Linked DNA regions of Homo sapiens. The protein of the gene in region 4 interacts with the protein of the main gene of each other region in a biochemical or structural test. Each region holds a gene or a part of one and is shown on either strand. Other genes may lie near its edges.

Region 1 (3,500 bases), on a different chromosome or scaffold from region 4:
CTTAGACCAGATGTAGGTTTCTTCCTAAAATTACAACATAAAGGGCAACTATTCTTTGCATACCTAGTTAGGGTTGAAGCTTTCGTAAATTCTCAAGAATCAGTTCCTCTATCTTTTACAGGAAAAGCCACCCAATTGCTACTTGAGAGAAAAACTGCAAAAGCATAGCGTACGTGTCAGGGCTACTCATTTTCCACATTACCAAGTCAAATGAACTCTATTTATCAAAAACATTTCATGCCCCTCGGGAAAAAACACCCCATTCTTTTGAGTTGTTAACTATACTCACAAAGCTCCTATAAACTTTTGAGCCTAATAGTACCCAACCACACCTTACAAAACTGAGTAACTGCTGCAGTTTTTACAAGGATTATTCAGGAACATTAAATTGTATTTGTGAGTACATTAAGGATTTTTATTACTTGACCTGAACTTAATGATCAGTTAGTCCAGGATCATTTTTACAAGGGAGAAACCAAAACCCAAAGAAAGTAAGGGACTCACTCAGCACTGTTAGTATGACAGCTGAGACTGCAACTATACCCAGACACAGGGGACACTAGAAAAAGCAAAACATGAAACTACTCTCTTGCCCCTAAGGGTGGTCTGATCAAAGGCCAAAGAATGTCATTACCATTTATAGTTTGAAAAAAAAAATCAAAGACTTGGTAACAGTCGTTATTTTATGGAGAACTATATTTTATATCCCAAAATCAAAAAGTATTTTATGAACCAACCACATGCAAAGGCCCGCTAGGCTTGTGAGAACCAGTCAGGAGGGATGAGGGAAGAGGAATTCAACAATTCTTAGAGAGACAAACATATTACCTCCAAGTTGCCTGTAAAGTTCACCGTAGGCCAAGCACAAATTTATTGTTATATTTAAAGCTTCTGTGAAACAAATCAGTGGTATCAGCTTCTACTGGCTAAGAATGCCAGCCTTTCTTCCAAAGCCACTGCAGCAGGCAATACTAAATTACCTCATTAGGCCATGACTCAAAATGTGGTGGGGGCCTTCTCCCAGAGTGACCTCTACTATTGGTACTAATGTGGGCTAATCTATTTGTTTCCATCATTGCCCCCCTAGAGTGGGAGCCAGGAACATGTTTTGTACATCTTTATACCATCAGGCTAGCAAAGTACTGACCATCAATTCAATCCCAACTCTTGTTAGGTACCTACTCTGTGCCAGGAGCAGAGGACTTCAAGATGAATGAGAAAGATACAACAGGTGGCCTCAGGAAGCTTGGGCTCCATTGGAGATAGACCTGGGATATAAAGTAGCAGCTACAGCTGGGCACAGTGTCTCATACCTATAATCCCAGCACTCTGGGAGGCCAAGGCAGGAGGATCACTTGAGCCCAGGAGTTTGAGACCAGCCTGGGCAATATAGTGAGACCTTGACTTTATAAAAATTTAAAAAAAAAATGTTTGTAAAGACGCAGCTACAATGACAGCAGGGCTTTAGAAGAGATATGTGCCAGCTTGTATGAAAACACACAGGTGACGGAACAAAACTCTGGTGCAAGGAAGCACACATTCGAGCTGGAAGATGCAAGCTAGATTGAACGGGAGAGGCATCCTCAACAAAGTGCTCAGCAATGGTATAGAGGAATGAAGGGCGAGGATGAGTTTGGAGAACGCTGCCCTTTCTTGTCTGGCTAGAATGGAAGCCACATAGGAGGGAAGGACTGGAAGCTGGCTGCCATGCTAAAGAGGAGTTTGGACTTTACAAGTGTTATGAAAGAATCAGAAGTAGTTGCAGAGGAGTGAGAGACTCAGATCTGGTTTTAGAACAATGAATTACTCTAGTGATGATGGGACCATATTAACGGGTAACCGGCTTCACTCATTTCTGCAGTGTGAAACTAGAAACCATTGCAGGCTCATAAGCAACATCTGAGAACCTAGACTACTAGTGTGGTGGAAAGGATGCCATAGTGACCAACCAGTGAAATGTGGCAGAGGGAATCACCAACTACTCCAAAGTCCCCAGCCCTCCTGGATACTCAAAATGTGAACATGGAATGGCTGGTGCCAAACTACATCATCTGGGAACAATGACCCAGCTAGAATTCCAATTTTCCTGAATATGGGCAGCATAAAGTAACATGCCCAGCCGATTTGCCAGTATTAGTTGTTACCAGAAACAAATCAGCATAAACACTGTAGGGAGGAATGCCAAATTGTGCAAAATATATATAGGCTCAGGCAGGCCTCAGAAAAAGTACCTGCTCACGCCTGCAATCCCAACTTCAGGAGGCCAAGGTGGGAGGATCGCTTGAAGCCAGGAGTTCAAGACCAACCTGGGCAACACAGCAAAACCCCATTTCTATTTAAAAGAAAGAAAGAAAGAAAAAGCAGTGCTAGGAACAGAAATTGCCAAAAGGATTCTGTAATCTACAAGATCACAAGACAGTTTTCTTTAACAAAGAGAAAAGGGAAAGAATCACACAACAAAAGGCCGTTATTTCAGTAGCTAAGTCAAAAAACCTCCACAGGAAATTTCTTATTCATTTCCACTGTGAAATTCAGTACACATTCAATTACATTATTCAATACCAGGTATTTTAATAGGTTTTGAGGAGCTATTCAAGATAAAATGCAAAATGGAGGAGAAGTAACGGCAGATAACTTGCAGCTAAGAAACAGCGGCATTACCATTATCCCCCAGCTGACTTTTTAGAACCACTGGTTGGTTTACTTACTTCCAAAAACACCAAAGTATTCCTATAAATATGCCAGTGATGTCAAATAACAATAGCAAAAAGTTCTTTCCTTCACTATTTCTACTTGTGCTCCCAGTTAATCTAATATCAGTCCAGACAATTACAAAGGCATTTACACCATTTCCAAAGTACTGATCAGACACCTAAATTTAGTTCACTCAAACCAGGGCTAAACAAGAACATTTAGATCTAATGGGTCACTCAAGATGACTAGAACTTCCCAGTCTCTCCATGTCATTTCCGTTAGTCTTTTTTTTTTTAAGTGAAGTGAGTCATAGTGTATAGATCTTTCTCCTTTGCATAAAATAGTTTTTTTTCCTCTGAAGAAAATAGTATTTAAATAAACATTATTGGCAAATTTTAATATTCATCTTTTTGGAATATAACAACATAAGCTGTATATCAGTAAGGAATTTTAGTGAACTATTGTTACAACATGGTTTTAACCTAGTCAGGCATTAGATTGTATTTCATAATGAAAACAGCTATAAAAACAAATGTCAATTGGAAGAGTGGCCCATTTTACAAAGCCTGCCTCTAACATGAATAAATCTTGCCTTCATGTCACAAGGTATTATTGCAGTCCCCTTTATCTGAAACAATCAAATCATTCACAATGAAATATAGTGAGTGGTGTCAGAGAATCAAAGAATTTACAGACGAGAAAACAAGCAAAACACCGGACCCAACCCCTCTTAAACTACAGATGGAGGGGAGCACATGAGCTATTCTTTTCATTCACTCAACCCTCTCTCCTCTCATTCTAGCTCA
Region 2 (4,104 bases), on a different chromosome or scaffold from region 4:
CCCTGGATGATGTCACTGAAGGGGAGCCCAGGGTTCAAACGGATTTGAAGGGGCTGTCAGGGCAGAAAGCAGAACTAAGCCCTTTCCCCGAAGCACACCCCTTTCCCAGGAGGAAACTGTAGCCCCACAAAGCCCAGCCCCACAGGAAACCACGTGATGGAAAAAACACAAAACTCCTTCTGGGGAGAGAGTGAGAAGTGAGGTTGTGAGGTTTCCTCAGCCCAGGGACGAGGGGAGGGCGGGCAAATTTTCCAACCGCAGGGATGGGGGGAAGGAGGGGAGGACCAGTCTGTCCCAACCCATCTCACCCCTGCCCGGAGGTGACTCCAGCCGAGAGACCCCCAGAGCCTCCTAACCCCACTGGGCTACTTCAGCCCACCGCCTGGGGACAGGCTAGGACCCCAGGTAGCGGGGAGGGGGCTGAGCCCCTTCCCTCAGGCCCCAGGATGAGGAAGTCTCCATGCAAATGTCAGGCTGACCACAGGAAGCGCAGAGCCACCGAGGGACAGATGCAAATTCTCGCAGAGGAGGAGGCGCACAGACAAGGCAGAGGACACAGCAGAACCTGGGAGAAAGAGCCTCTCACACACTCCCAGGCTCAGGGGTGACACTGGCTCCTGGGACGGGTCACCCAAAAGGGCCTCCAGTGCGGCTTCCCTGGTCTTAACCTCCCGCCCCGGCACTGCCCTCCCTTCCTTCTCTCTCTTCTCTCTTCTCCTTGAACCCAGGCCTCAGCCTCCTCTGCAGGGGCCTCCTGGGGCCCTGCTCCTCTCTTCCACCTCCAGGCACTGGTCAGCCCGTCCTCCTCTCCTGGCTGGAGGCAAGGAGAAAGAGAGGACATGAGCTTTAGAGGGTCTCGGTGCCAAAAGCCCCCTGAGTGTTGCGGTGGGGAAGAGGAAGGGCAGGGGGCAGACACGGAGCCAGCCATGTGAGGCTCACAGAGAGAGGGAAGGCCTTGAAGGAGGCCGATCCAGGAAAGGAGGCCTCCCAGGTGGGCCACAGGGCTGCACCGTGACCGAATCCAGCTCTAAGTTTCAATCAGTGCCTTGACCAAAAATATTGATGCAGTTTGGAGGCCCGAATCTCAGAGAGGCTGCAAGCTGGCAGGAGCAAGGTTCCCGATCATTTCAATAACCGATCCATGAATGCAGGGATCCACGGCAAGGGCAAGTCGGCTTGGCCCAGGGGTGCATGTGAAAACCCCCTAGCGTTATTCCGCTGCCCTTTACTCTAAGGGGATCTGGCATTGAGATGCGGCTGCTGAAAGGAGCCATGGTGTCATGAGGAGCATTCAGAGCCCCCAGCCCCCAGCCCATGCCTTTGGGAGACCACAGGAGGAGTCGGGGAGGCCACAGGAAGGAAATGCCTGGAGTATTACTCTGTGCCCGGGACAGCGTGAGACACTTTACACAGGTGAACACTTCACATCGTGCTCTCAATGATCTCTGTTTGGGCCGGAGACCTATTTGACCCCACAGGACAGACCCATCCCCACGGGGCGGCTGGGACAAGGCATCAAGTGTCTTGGCAAGCATTCATCCCCATCTTCACCCCAGTGTCAGCTCCTCACTGTCCTAACATGTGCTGGGGTGAGGGGCAGACGGAGGAAGGCAGGCTCGATTCCAGAGGAAGAAGAGCTTTCTAACAACAGAGCTGGCCTGCACGACATGCTGGCCACCAGCAGTGGCCTCCCTGTCTCCAGTGGGACCTGGGTTGCAGCGGCCAGGGCTCCCGGAGTAGGGCGAGGCAGCTTTCTGTGGCTTCCTCGGGGTTAGGTGGAAAGGGTGGTAGGTTAGGCTCTGAGACACCAGGTCCCAGGACAGCAGGGAGGAGGGACATTGAGAGCCCCAGCTGGTGCAGGGAGGGGAGGGGATGGAGGGTAGGCAGCGCCGGCTGCCAGTCTCCCTGCCTCCCTGGCTGTTCAGGGTGGGAGCCGGCTCATCCCTGCTTGGGAATGGCGGGGGTGCGGAGCCCTCACCTCTCACTAGTGGGATCGGAGCAGTTCAGCGGGTACTTGAGGTGGATGATGGTGCCGTCGCGGTCCTGCAGGACACCCTGCTGCTGAGTGTAGTACTCCACCAGCTCTGTCAGAGTCGCAAACTTCTCCCCTCCATACAGGTCATAGAAATCCCCTGAGTTCTGGATCCGAATATGGGTCACCTGATCCCCCACCCTGCAGGGCACCAGGCGGTGAGGCCAGTCGGTGCAGGAGTAGAGGCAGGAGGGCAGGGATCGGCTGAGGTCCTGGGTGGGGGCACACATGGGCATGGGTGGGCACAGACAGGGATGGGGAGTGTGGGGGTTGGGGGCAAGGGAACAGACGGGGAGTCAGCACTGCCACGGGGAACCAGGAATGAGTGGTTCAGGGCCTGGATGGCACAAGAGAGTGGCCAAAATGCCCGGGGTTGCGGGGGGCCCACCTACCTGACGGAGAGCGAGAAGTCACCCTGGTTCTTGCGACTGGGCCGAGCCAGGAAGCTACCGTGGACACCTCGGCCCTTGAGCAGGGTCTCTGCATCCAGCCCACTGAGGTCTCGGTGAAACCACCTGGGCGGCCCAGGCAGGGCAGTGAGGAGGGGTCCCGTGGGCACCAGGCACCCTTGCCTCCTGTCTACCGTGGGTGGCAGGCCCTTACCTCACCATCCTGGGGGCTTCCGGAGAGGAAGGGGGCGCAGGGAATGAGGAGGTGCAGCTAGTCTGGGCAGGCAGAGAGCTCAGGGACTAAGCCTCAGATGCAGCTCCCAGTGCCGGGCCGCCTCACCACCCCCGGTGGTCCCAGTTCTGGGGCTGCCACTCCACTGGCCTGGGGCAGCCGGCAGGGCGGGGACAGGAAGAGGCGCGGCCGACCCCTTGGGGGAACTCACTTGTACTTCTCGTTTTAGAGCACAGCAAGGGAAGAGAAGCAGAGCAGGGTGGCACTGGGGGTGGGGACGGGGCCCACTTCCCACACGTCTGCAATCAAAGGCTCAGGAGCATGGCATTGCACATATGTGACAACACATGCAGTAAGGACACATGTGTGCCTTGCACACTCCAGGCCCAGATAATACTTCACGCATGCGAACCCAGACGGTCCCACGGCATCTCTCCCTCCTCCACCAGCTGCTTTTACGCAGCCCTCCCTGGCCCACGCTAATAACAATGATGGCGGTGACAACTGTCATCGAGTGAGTCCTGCTGGATGCCGGGCGCTGTGCTATAATGGCGTTCACATGCCTTGTCTGATTGGTTTCTCACCACAGCCCTATGAAACAGGGGCTATCTTTATCATTTTACAGACAAGGAACCTGAGGCTCAGGGAGTTTAAGGCATTGCCTGAGTCCATCAGTGAGTCAGCTGCAGTGCCAGGATTCAAACCCAGACAGTCCGGTTCCAAAGCCAGTGCTTTGAACTCCTATACACCAGCCCTCAGGGCTTCAAAGAACAGAGATTAAGAGCCTCCTTGTCCAAAGGGGCTGCCATGGGAGCAGGAGACTAATAGTTAAGACCTTGCCAATGCTTGCAAGAGAGAAGGGTGCCCTCCTCTAACCAACATATGCAGTTTGTCCATGCCACTGTGGCAGAGGGATGGACAACATGACCCTGAGCAGCCCTGTCAACATGGGTCCTTTCTAATTCTTGTCCCTAGGCCTCTGCCCTGCCCCAGCACTCCCACCAGGGGGCCTATCTCCTGGGGGGCTGGGGGACAAGGTCCTCACCATGGCTGATTTTCTCAGGGCTGGTTGATCTTAGAGGCCCTAAACACTAAGGTATATGATGCTGCCTACCTGTAATTCCAAATACAAACATCAACACCGCCAAACCAAAACGAGGAAAAGCAGCTCAACAGGGGATACATAAGAAACACATATTGGTGGCTTCCCCTAGGGAGGGAAACTGGGTGGCTGGAGGACAGGGCTGGGGGAGACACTTGGTTCTCTACATACCTTTTTGAATGTTATATGATGGGCATGCATTACCTTTATAAAAATAAATATGCTAACTGGGAACAATTTCTGGGAAACTTTTAGGGTACAGGGAAGGCTCTTTGTCTCTATCTGGATGCTGTTTGCATGGGTGTGTATAAACGTGAAGTTGGCCGGGCGCAGTGGCTCACGCCTGTAA
Region 3 (4,300 bases), on a different chromosome or scaffold from region 4:
AGACCCACCCAGTGCTCCCCACCATGCCTCACCTCTCTGATTCACAGGGTCTTTGGCAACATAGGCGACATACTCGGCTGTGTCCTGGGGAGGAAGGTCAAAAAATTTTACAGTTCTACTTTACTCCTGACCCCTAAAACCCAGTCCTTTTCAGATATCCCCACAATCCTAGCACCCCCACTTCTCTAATCAATGTCTTCCCAATCCCTAGCCCCTTGCTCTTCTCCCACCGCCTTTGCTCTGTTCCCCAACTCACCGGATCCCCGCCGGATGCAAATGAGATAGATTGCATGTGGTGGTTGGCGATGATCTGAGAATTAGGGCAGGGGATGAAGAAGGAAGGGAATGCCATGTGTCAGGCAGCCTCAGGGCCCAGAACCCTGGTGCCCCAGTCTCATTCTCTGGGTTCCTTATCCCATATCCTCATTTCCTCCTTCCCTACTGGTCTCCTGCTCTCAAGCCCTCTTCCTAGATTTTGGCCTCCTAACTAGATCTCCCCTTAGCACCCCCATCAGTGTTTCTGGTCCGTCTGCCCACCTTCACCAACCTGTTTGCAGTCTGCGGCCATGAGGTTGAGGCTGCTGGTGGAGACGGTGAGAGTGATTGGCATTCCAGCAAATTTCAGGTTACTCCTCCCCAGGATAGAGCTGAGCGGGCGGCTACAGGGCTAAGGTAGGGCCCAGGGTCTCAGAAGGTGAGGGTTCCCAGCACAGGCAAACCACACTTTTGCCTCCTGGCCCTCTCCCCACATGCCCCACACTTGCCTCCCCACTGCCCCTCCACATTTCCCAGCAGCATCCCTATCCCCAAGGACCCCAAGTACCTTTCTCCTCCTTGTCGCCCCCTTAGCACCCGGCACAGCCTCACACACCAGACTGATGGCCTCCCTGGGGAAAGAGGGGTACTCAGACCCAGCGCCTGCCTGCCTGCCTCCCACTCAACTGGGGCTGCCACAGGGCTGGGGGAGGGGAAAGCCAGGCCAGACTCCCAGGGCACTCCAGGCTCTTTGTCATGGTGGATTGAATTAAGGGCCTTTAATATTTGATGACACTGAGAGGCCACTTCCTGGCTGATTGGGTTAGGGCCTCAATGGGTATAGCCCCACCCCCTTCCAGCTACCAAATGTCCCATTCCCTTCCCAAAGGCAGCAGCAACCTTCCATCTACCCCCCTTTTCTACTCCAGCTCCACCTGCCAGCTGCTTCTGCCACCTTCCCCACAACTCCCAAGGCTGGATAGGTAAGGAGGATCCGGGCCAAAGGGGCCTCCTTTCAGTAAGAGGCGGAATCACTACCTCAGCTTTCTCTCAATCCCCTTTACTACGCAAAGATCAGCCCCCAGCAGCAGCACCCAAGTGACCCACTCCCCTCCTCTGTTTCCCATGGCCTCACTAATCCCAGGACTCCCACAATCCACTCCCTCCCCACTAACCTGGTGACCTGAGTCCGGGTGTTGAAGTCCAGGGCACGCATTGACTGGAGGACCTCCACACAACCCATGTACTAAGGGGAGGGAGAAGAGGACAGCAGGTCAGCGGCTCCCCCACCCCAGCCCCTTCACAAAGGGCCCTAGGACTTTACCCATATGGTCCCTAAGGGAAGTAAAGAGGAAGAAGTTCTGCCCACTTCCCGTGGCTACATCCCACAACCAAGGTGAAAGACAACAGGGAATGAGGAGAAAAAGAAAAGGCAGGCTAGAAGGACCTCACACACTGGGGAGAGAGTTTGGAGGGGACCGACAGGCATTGGCTGGGATGGAGTGACAACTCCAGAAAGCGGGAGGAGAATGGAGGAAAGATCAAGAAGTCATTCATTCCAACACTTATTAAGAGCTTCTGCCATGCTGGGCATTGTGCTAAGCATGCCAGGGTGGGGGTGGGGGAGTGAAAAGAAGGAAGGGGGCCCAGGCAAAGCTGGAAGGGAAGGGGCTACAGAATCGGGGAAGGGATGAGAAAGGTTTAGGAAATAGGACACTGAAACGGGGTTGTTGGGGAACAGCAGGAAAAAAGAGATTCCGGCCAAGCTGGAGTGAGCATTAGAACTGGAGGGGGTCTGCGGGGGAATGGAGAGGAGGATGTTCACTCACCCGAACCAAGTAGGAAACCCCGGGTCCCATGACTTTGTCGTTGGGATGCAGCCAGCCCCGCGTGGGCTTATTGACAAAGCTCCCGTGGCGGGTCCACTCCTCGCCCCCAAGCTGGCCCCCTTCCACCCGAGTCCTGCGCCCGCCGCCTCCACTCAGCTTGTTCATGTCCTGGAGGAGGGGTAGGGGGCCTGAGTCTGGCATGGCTGCCCCTACGATCCCCTCCCCATCATCAGCTGCCCTTCCTGGCTCCCCCTTAGACCCTGGGCGCCCCCCAGCCGGGTTGGCCAGCCTCAGGTTGCTCATCCGGGGGAAGAAGGAGCACAGGGTAGTGGGACTATCGTCCCCAGGCAGAGGAGGCAGGATGGGCCCCAGGGATGAAGCTGATGGGGAAGGCAGCTCCTCCGGGGGGGTGGACCCAGAAGCCCCTTCCTCCAGCGATGACAGAGACTCATTCCGGAGTGGATTGTACTTGGGCTTGGGGGGCAGGAGATCCATAGTTGAGGTGAAAGAGGGGCTGCTGCCCAGCCTGGCCCCCCTGCCAGTTTGGGCAAGGGGGCCAGGCAGGGGGTATCCCCAGGCCCTTAGCCTGGTTGGACCTCTGTGGCCCAGGAGTCACAGAAGTCCTGGGGAGGGAGAGGGACAAGTGGCTTCCGCTCCCCAGCTCAGACCCAGACAGTTTCAGGCCCCATCCCCGCCCAACGTGGAGCCTCTTCTCTGGCTGAGAAGAGAACAGGCTGGACCCAGCGCTTCTGGCTCCTCCCCAGGGGCGGGGAGCTAAGGGGAGAGACCAATCGTGAGGACAGTGCTGACTCACAGGCTCAGAGGGGCTGAGCCCCCACCCCGCCCCAACCTCGAACTGGAGCAGGGGGTAGGGCTATCCAAGCCCCTCTCCCCTGCCCTATACAAACAACTAGTAATCTGGGGAGAAGTAAAGTGGGGGTGGGAGGGAAGGATGGAAGAGTGGGACGGAAAGGAAGGAGATAGGAGGTCTGGGTCACTCAAAACCGGACACACGCAGGCCAAAGGGGGCAGGAAGCCAGGCAGGAGTACAGGGGAATGAGGGAGGAAACAGAGGCAGCTGGGGGTGGAAAAGGGAGGAGATCTCAGAGCTCAGCATTTCCCTTCCTGTCCTGGTTGGACACTCGAATTCCCCCACCCTCTCTATGCCCGAAAGCTGGCTGGCCCCAGCCCAGGCCACCCCCAACCGCTACCCCATACAGTAAGCCTGGGCCATTAGCATCCTCTGCTACAGCAGCTGTGGACTGGAGCTAGCGAAGTGGGGATGGGAAGTAAGTGGTCCCAATGGATGCAGAGCAGGGCCAAGAGGAAGAGCAAAGCTGGTGAAAAAAGGGGAATAAAGTTCAACCTGGATGATACATCAGGAAGCTACCAGGCAAGAAGGGAACAAGAGGACATGCTGGTCACGGCTTGTTCTCTACGTATGCCATCTACCACACCAAGACCGATGGCTCATAGCCAAGCACTGTCCTGTCTCCCCTTTCCACAGGGCTTGTTAACACAGCACACTGTCAAGGGTGAGAATGAGGCAATCAGGTCCCCACTCCCACTCCAAACCACCCCAATTCACATCCCTCCTCTTACAGGGCCCTAAGCCCCACCAAAGAGCACAGCATCCTTCACACCAGGGAAGGAGCCTGGCTGGAGGAGGTGGAAGAAACAGTTCTCCAAGAGAAGTAGAAACTACAGGCCAGGAAGGGACAGAGAGATCAGAAGACACATCTGCGTCAATAAGGACAGGAGAAAAATAAGTACAGGAGAAAGGGGTGTCAGGAGAAGATGGGTTGAAGCTGGACACAGGGAACAGTCCCAAACCCATTCCTGCCACCCACGGCTTCCTGCCACTGCTCTTCCGGAGAATGCCACAGGCAAAGCTGGAAAGTGACCAAAAAAAAAAAAACAAAGATACGTATTCCTACCGGGCGCGGTGGCTCACACCTGTGATACCAGCACTTTGGGAGGCTGAGGCGGGTGGATCACCTGAAGTCAGGAGTTCGAGACCAGCCTGGTCAACATGGTGAAACCCTGTCTCTACTAAAAATACAAAAATTAGCTGGGCGTGGTGGCGGGCACCTGTAATCCCAGCTCAGGAGGCTGAGGCAGGAGAATCGCTCGAACCCAGGAGGCGGAGGTTGCAGTGAGCCGAGATCGAGCCATTGCACTCCAGCCTAGGTGACAAGAGCAAAACTCCGTCTCAA
Region 4 (4,789 bases):
ATGTGTGGTGTGTGTGTGGTGTGTATGTGTGTGGTGTGTATGTGTGTGTGTATATATGCGTATGTGTGGGGTGTATATGTTTGTGTGTGTGTGGGGTTTTTGTGGTGTGTGTGTGGTGTGTGTATTTGTGTGTGTTGTGTGTATATGTGGTGTGTGTGTACATGTGTACATATGGTGTGTGGTGTGTATATGTCTATATGTTTATGCATGTGTGGTGTCTGTGTGGTGTTGGTGTGTATGTGTGCATACATATGTGTATGTGGTGTGTATGTGTGTGTGTGGCGTGTGTACATGTGTGGTGTGTGGATGTGTATGTATGTGTGGTGTGTGTGTGGTGTGTATGTGTGTGTGGTGTGTGTGTACGTTTGTGTATATGTGGTGTGTGTGTACATGTGTATGGTGTGTGTCGTGTGTGTCTGTGTGTATGTGTGTGTGTAGTTGGTGTGTGTAGTTGGTGTGTAAAGAGGTATATCATCTGCCTTAACTTGCATTTTTCTAATAGCTTATAATATTGATAATCTGTTTATATTATATTAGATAGCCAATAAACTATATATTAGATATTACACTAACATATATATAACTTACATATGTTATATATCTAAATCTTTATATACATATAACATATGTATAAAGATTTCTACATATTTTTATATATAAAGATTTTGATATATATGACATAGATATTAGATAGCTAATAAACTACATATTAGATATATAGATATTAGATATTACATCAACATATATATAACATATGTTTTATATATATCTAAATCTTTATACATGTGTGTGTGGGGTGTGGGTGTGTATATGCACATACATATGTGTATGTGGTGTGTTAATGTGTGTTTCTGTGGTGTGTGTGGTGTGTCTACGTGTGTGTATGTGTGGTGCGTGTATGTGTGGTGTGTGTGGTGTGTGTATGTGTGTGTGTGGTGTGTGGTGTGTGTGTGTATGTGTGGTGTAGTGTGTATATGTTTGTATGTGTGTGCGGTTTTTGTGGTGTGTGTGTGGCGTATGTGTGTGTGGTGTGTGTATGTGTGGTGTGTGTGGTGTATGTGTACGTGTGTATGTAATGGTGTGTGTAGTGTATATGTGTCTGTGTGTATGTATGTGTGGTGTGTGTGTATGTGTGCATACATGTCTGTAGTGTGTGTACGTGTCTGTGTTGTGTGTTGTGTGTACGTGTGTGTGGTGTGTCTGTATGTATGTGTGGTGTGTATGTATGCATGGTGTATGTGTGTATATATGTGTGTATACGTGTGTGTATGTGGTGTGTGTGGTGTGTATATGTGTATGTGTGTGGGGTTTTTGTGGTGTATGTGTGGTGTGTGTATGTGTGTATACATGTATGTGTGTGTGGTGTGTATGTATTTGAGGTGTGTGTGTATATGTGTGTGCATGTGTATGTGTCTGTGTATGGTATGTGTGTGGTGTCTGTGTATGTGTGTGGTGTGTGTATATGTGTGTATGTGTATGTGTGTGTATATGTGTGTGTGTTAGCAGGTTATGAGTATCTGGATAAAGCTTAAAATTTATTAATATTAACTAATATTTAATTAGTTAAATATACGTTTCACAGGTCAAGATAGAGCCAGCAGAGAGAACAGGGATCAAATCTGTCACAAACACACACATACACACACACACATACACAGATGTACACACATCATGAACACTCACACACACAGATGTGTATGTCCGTGATTTGCTTCATAAGCTAGAAATTTTGCAGATTCATTCTTACAACAGAGGTACAGCAAACAACCAGACACAACAAAGAGCTTGTGCAGGCTCGGTCATGTGTTTATCTGCTCCTTACGCCCTTCACTGTGTCTGCAAATCTGCCACTGTTTCCCCCTCTGGAGATGCTGGAGGGAGCACCTGGCTTGGACACTGGAGACTGGCTGCTGCTGAGTGGGTCGAGGAGGTTGAGGAGCAGGACTGTTTCCAGACAAGCCACTCACCAGGCACTGGGAGGAAGGTGTCGTCTATGCTGTCCTCAGTCAAGGCGCCTGTGGGGTCTGAGCTGTATCGCTGCAAGAAGCTGTCTTCCTTGATGGGACAGCTTTGCAGCTGCAGGAGGAAATGAGGGAAGGTTACTCCGGTCAGGGCTGCCCCAACTTCAGTGTTTGCAAAAATCACCCGAGATCTCCTTGAGATGCTGGTTCTGATTAGTAGGTTGGGCAGGCCTGAGAGTCTGCACCCTGGTGGGTGCTGGTGCTACTGGGCCACAGGCTGCAGGGTGGGCAGCAGGGCTGTGCTGGGTGCTGTACAGCAGAACTTTCCGCAGTGAGGGAGGTGTGCTATGAGCGGTGCTCTTCAATACGGTCACCACTAGCCACGTGTGGCTACTGGACACTTCACATGTGTGAGAAACTGAATTTTATATTTTATTTCATTTTAACTCATTAACATTTAAGTTGAAGTAGCCACATGTGGCTAGTGGTTTCTGCATGGCACAGTGCGGTCTAGACCACGGCCTCACACTTCAACAGACATCAGCATCACCTGGAAAGTGGCTCAAACATAGACTACTGGGTGCCACCCCCAGAGGTCCTGATTTGGTCAAACTGGGGCAGTGGCCTGAAAAATGGCGTTTCTAACAAGGCCAGGCGATGCTACTACTGGTCCAGGAGTCACGCTTTGAACGGCACTGTGAGGCGTGACAGCCGTGCAGGGAAAAACCCACACAGGAAGAAAACTCAAGATTATCTGGGTTAAAATTATTTAGGTTAAGGCATTTTCCATGTAAAATAGAGCCATAGTGGAGAGCTGTAAATTCTGGCTTATAAGGTGTTCATACATACCCCATTTCTATCAATGCAAGCCACGGTGGAATTGTTGCTGGTTGCACTCTGAAAAAGAAACAGAGAAGTTGCCCATGGAATGCTTGTACCACATCTCATCCACTTTTCCTGAATGCAGGTGGTGTGCCTCATGGAGGGTATATTGTGAAGGTGTTTAATTTTTGTCTTAATCGTTAGTTTTAGAGCAACTAGGTTTAGTTTTGATTTAATTACATTCCATAGTGGACCTAAAAGGCTTACAATCAAGTTGTTGCAATGCAACAAAATAATTAATACACTTAATTTATTTTGATTTTGATTTTACCATTTGGTTAAAATTGACTTCATATCCATGTGAGTTTCACTAGATGGTTATTTTCCCTAAAATTCAATTTGTTCAAATGAGTAGACACAGCTTGAGAGAGAGAGAGAGACAGAGATTTCATACCAGAGAGCTCAGGAGGGGAGTCCGTGACGTGGAGGGGCTGCTGAAGAAGCCCTGCTGTGGGATGAGGTACTCGTCGGCATCCACCACGTCGTCCATGTCTTCTTCATCCATCAGGGCACGGTAGAAGTTGGAGTCTGTAGGACTTGGCAAATGCATTCTTTCATCCCCCTGGTGCAGAGATTTTGAGGCTATTAGAATGGCCCGTAGAGATGCTATTCCACTTCTTGGCTATAGGAGCAGGGGTCTATTGCCAGCAGGTGCCTGTGTGTTTGCCAATTTTGTTATAATGAAATCCCCCTTGGTTCTCTAAATTATAGCTGCCTCCCCTCATGACATGATGTGGGTGCCTTAAAATAAAACATGAACCATCCTTTGATGCTTGAAAGCCCCTACATGAGATTCAAATAGCTTCTGAGGAAACAGAAAGGGAAGAAGCTGCAGCATTCATCGAGTGTGCACCTTGCTGTGAGGTGTTAGGGAGCGTATTTTGCAACATATTTTATTGAATCTTTGAGACAATCCTGTGAGCTTGGTTTTGGTATTCCTGTGTTATGGAAGGAGATAGGTGGATCGGCTGCCTGGGTGATGCGAAGAAGTGGAGAGTCAGGGGTGTGAAGCCACGTCTGCCTGACACCAAAGCCCAATAGACCATGCTTCTCTCTTAGACCCAGCTGAGGCTTTGGCTAGCCGGACAGTGAGGACGAGCACCAGAGGAGAGTTCAGACGGGGAGGGGGAGATGGAGTTGGGTGGGCCCCACTCACGGATGCTGCTTAGTTCACGATGTGGCCTGCGCCTTACTGAGGCTTGCTCTAATGCGCTGGAGGGTTTAATAATGCGATCTGGGACACAGGGAGGCCAGGCTGGCATGTGACAGAACACAGTGACATGAGATGCTCATTAGAGGGACTCTTCCCAATGGAAGCACAGACTGCAATTTGTACCTGAATGACAAGGTAGCGCTGGGGGTCTCGGGCCATTTTGGAGAATTCGATGATCAACTCACGGAACTTTGGGCGACTATCTGCGTCTATCATCCAGCCTGGGGAAGGAATGAGAAAAAACAGTGCAATTAGAACACTGGAAGAAATGATAAAGATGGCATTGCTTAAAGAAGGCATTGGTGATGCGACACTTCCAGTCAAATAAGTGATGAAAGAACCAAGTCTTTGTGGTAGACTTTTCTGTCTTGGCCAGCTAGTACTGGTTACTGTTTAAAGACCATGCCAGCACTGTACATTTGAATCAGAATAACAATAATGCCCTCTAGTTTTTCTACGCCCACTCTTCCTGGGGTCAGCATCCTGTGTTACGCCTGAGGGGATGGAGCAGTGTGGGTCTGTACAATTGCTCTCCATGAACTATCCTGACTGCAGGGTGCCCTGCACCAAGGTCCTCACTCAACATCCACCCTTAGCATTCCTTCAGGTAGGAAACCAGATGCAACTTAGAAAAATAGGCTTTAAAGAATTTGGGGTTGGGACTGGGCCCCTACCCCCGGCGTCTCCAGTACAGCACATACCCAGTGGGCATGCATGCAAGTGAGAAGGCTGG

Evidence for each region. The genes of interacting proteins can lie anywhere in the genome.
Region 1: of the proteins of EGFR (region 4) and PTPN1, one has a biochemical effect on the other in vitro, tested with the Homo sapiens proteins (4 studies listed by BioGRID and IntAct, with this or other methods).
Region 2: the proteins of EGFR (region 4) and PTPN6 form a complex in vitro, tested with the Homo sapiens proteins (3 studies listed by BioGRID).
Region 3: the proteins of EGFR (region 4) and SHC1 form a complex in vitro, tested with the Homo sapiens proteins (9 studies listed by BioGRID and IntAct, with this or other methods).

Annotation. Positions count from the first base shown.
Region 1 is NC_000020.11:50,513,383-50,516,882, reverse strand, and holds part of PTPN1 (tyrosine-protein phosphatase non-receptor type 1), read right to left. Parts: intron 1-3,500. UniProt on the Homo sapiens protein: Tyrosine-protein phosphatase which acts as a regulator of endoplasmic reticulum unfolded protein response. Mediates dephosphorylation of EIF2AK3/PERK; inactivating the protein kinase activity of EIF2AK3/PERK.
Region 2 is NC_000012.12:6,950,052-6,954,155, reverse strand, and holds the start of PTPN6 (tyrosine-protein phosphatase non-receptor type 6), read right to left. Parts: upstream 2,801-4,104; 5' UTR 2,644-2,800; coding exon 2,636-2,643; intron 2,548-2,635; coding exon 2,425-2,547; intron 2,174-2,424; coding exon 1,979-2,173; intron 1-1,978. UniProt on the Homo sapiens protein: Tyrosine phosphatase enzyme that plays important roles in controlling immune signaling pathways and fundamental physiological processes such as hematopoiesis.
Region 3 is NC_000001.11:154,967,948-154,972,247, forward strand, and holds the start of SHC1 (SHC-transforming protein 1), read right to left. Parts: upstream 2,801-4,300; 5' UTR 2,580-2,800; coding exon 2,085-2,579; intron 1,502-2,084; coding exon 1,431-1,501; intron 888-1,430; coding exon 824-887; intron 668-823; coding exon 548-667; intron 311-547; coding exon 257-310; intron 85-256; coding exon 33-84; intron 1-32. UniProt on the Homo sapiens protein: Signaling adapter that couples activated growth factor receptors to signaling pathways. Participates in a signaling cascade initiated by activated KIT and KITLG/SCF.
Region 4 is NC_000007.14:55,199,804-55,204,592, reverse strand, and holds part of EGFR (epidermal growth factor receptor isoform a precursor), read right to left. Parts: intron 4,278-4,789; coding exon 4,180-4,277; intron 3,406-4,179; coding exon 3,238-3,405; intron 2,859-3,237; coding exon 2,811-2,858; intron 2,077-2,810; coding exon 1,968-2,076; coding exon of another isoform or gene 1,828-1,967; exon of another isoform or gene 1,517-1,827; intron 1-1,516. UniProt on the Homo sapiens protein: Receptor tyrosine kinase binding ligands of the EGF family and activating several signaling cascades to convert extracellular cues into appropriate cellular responses.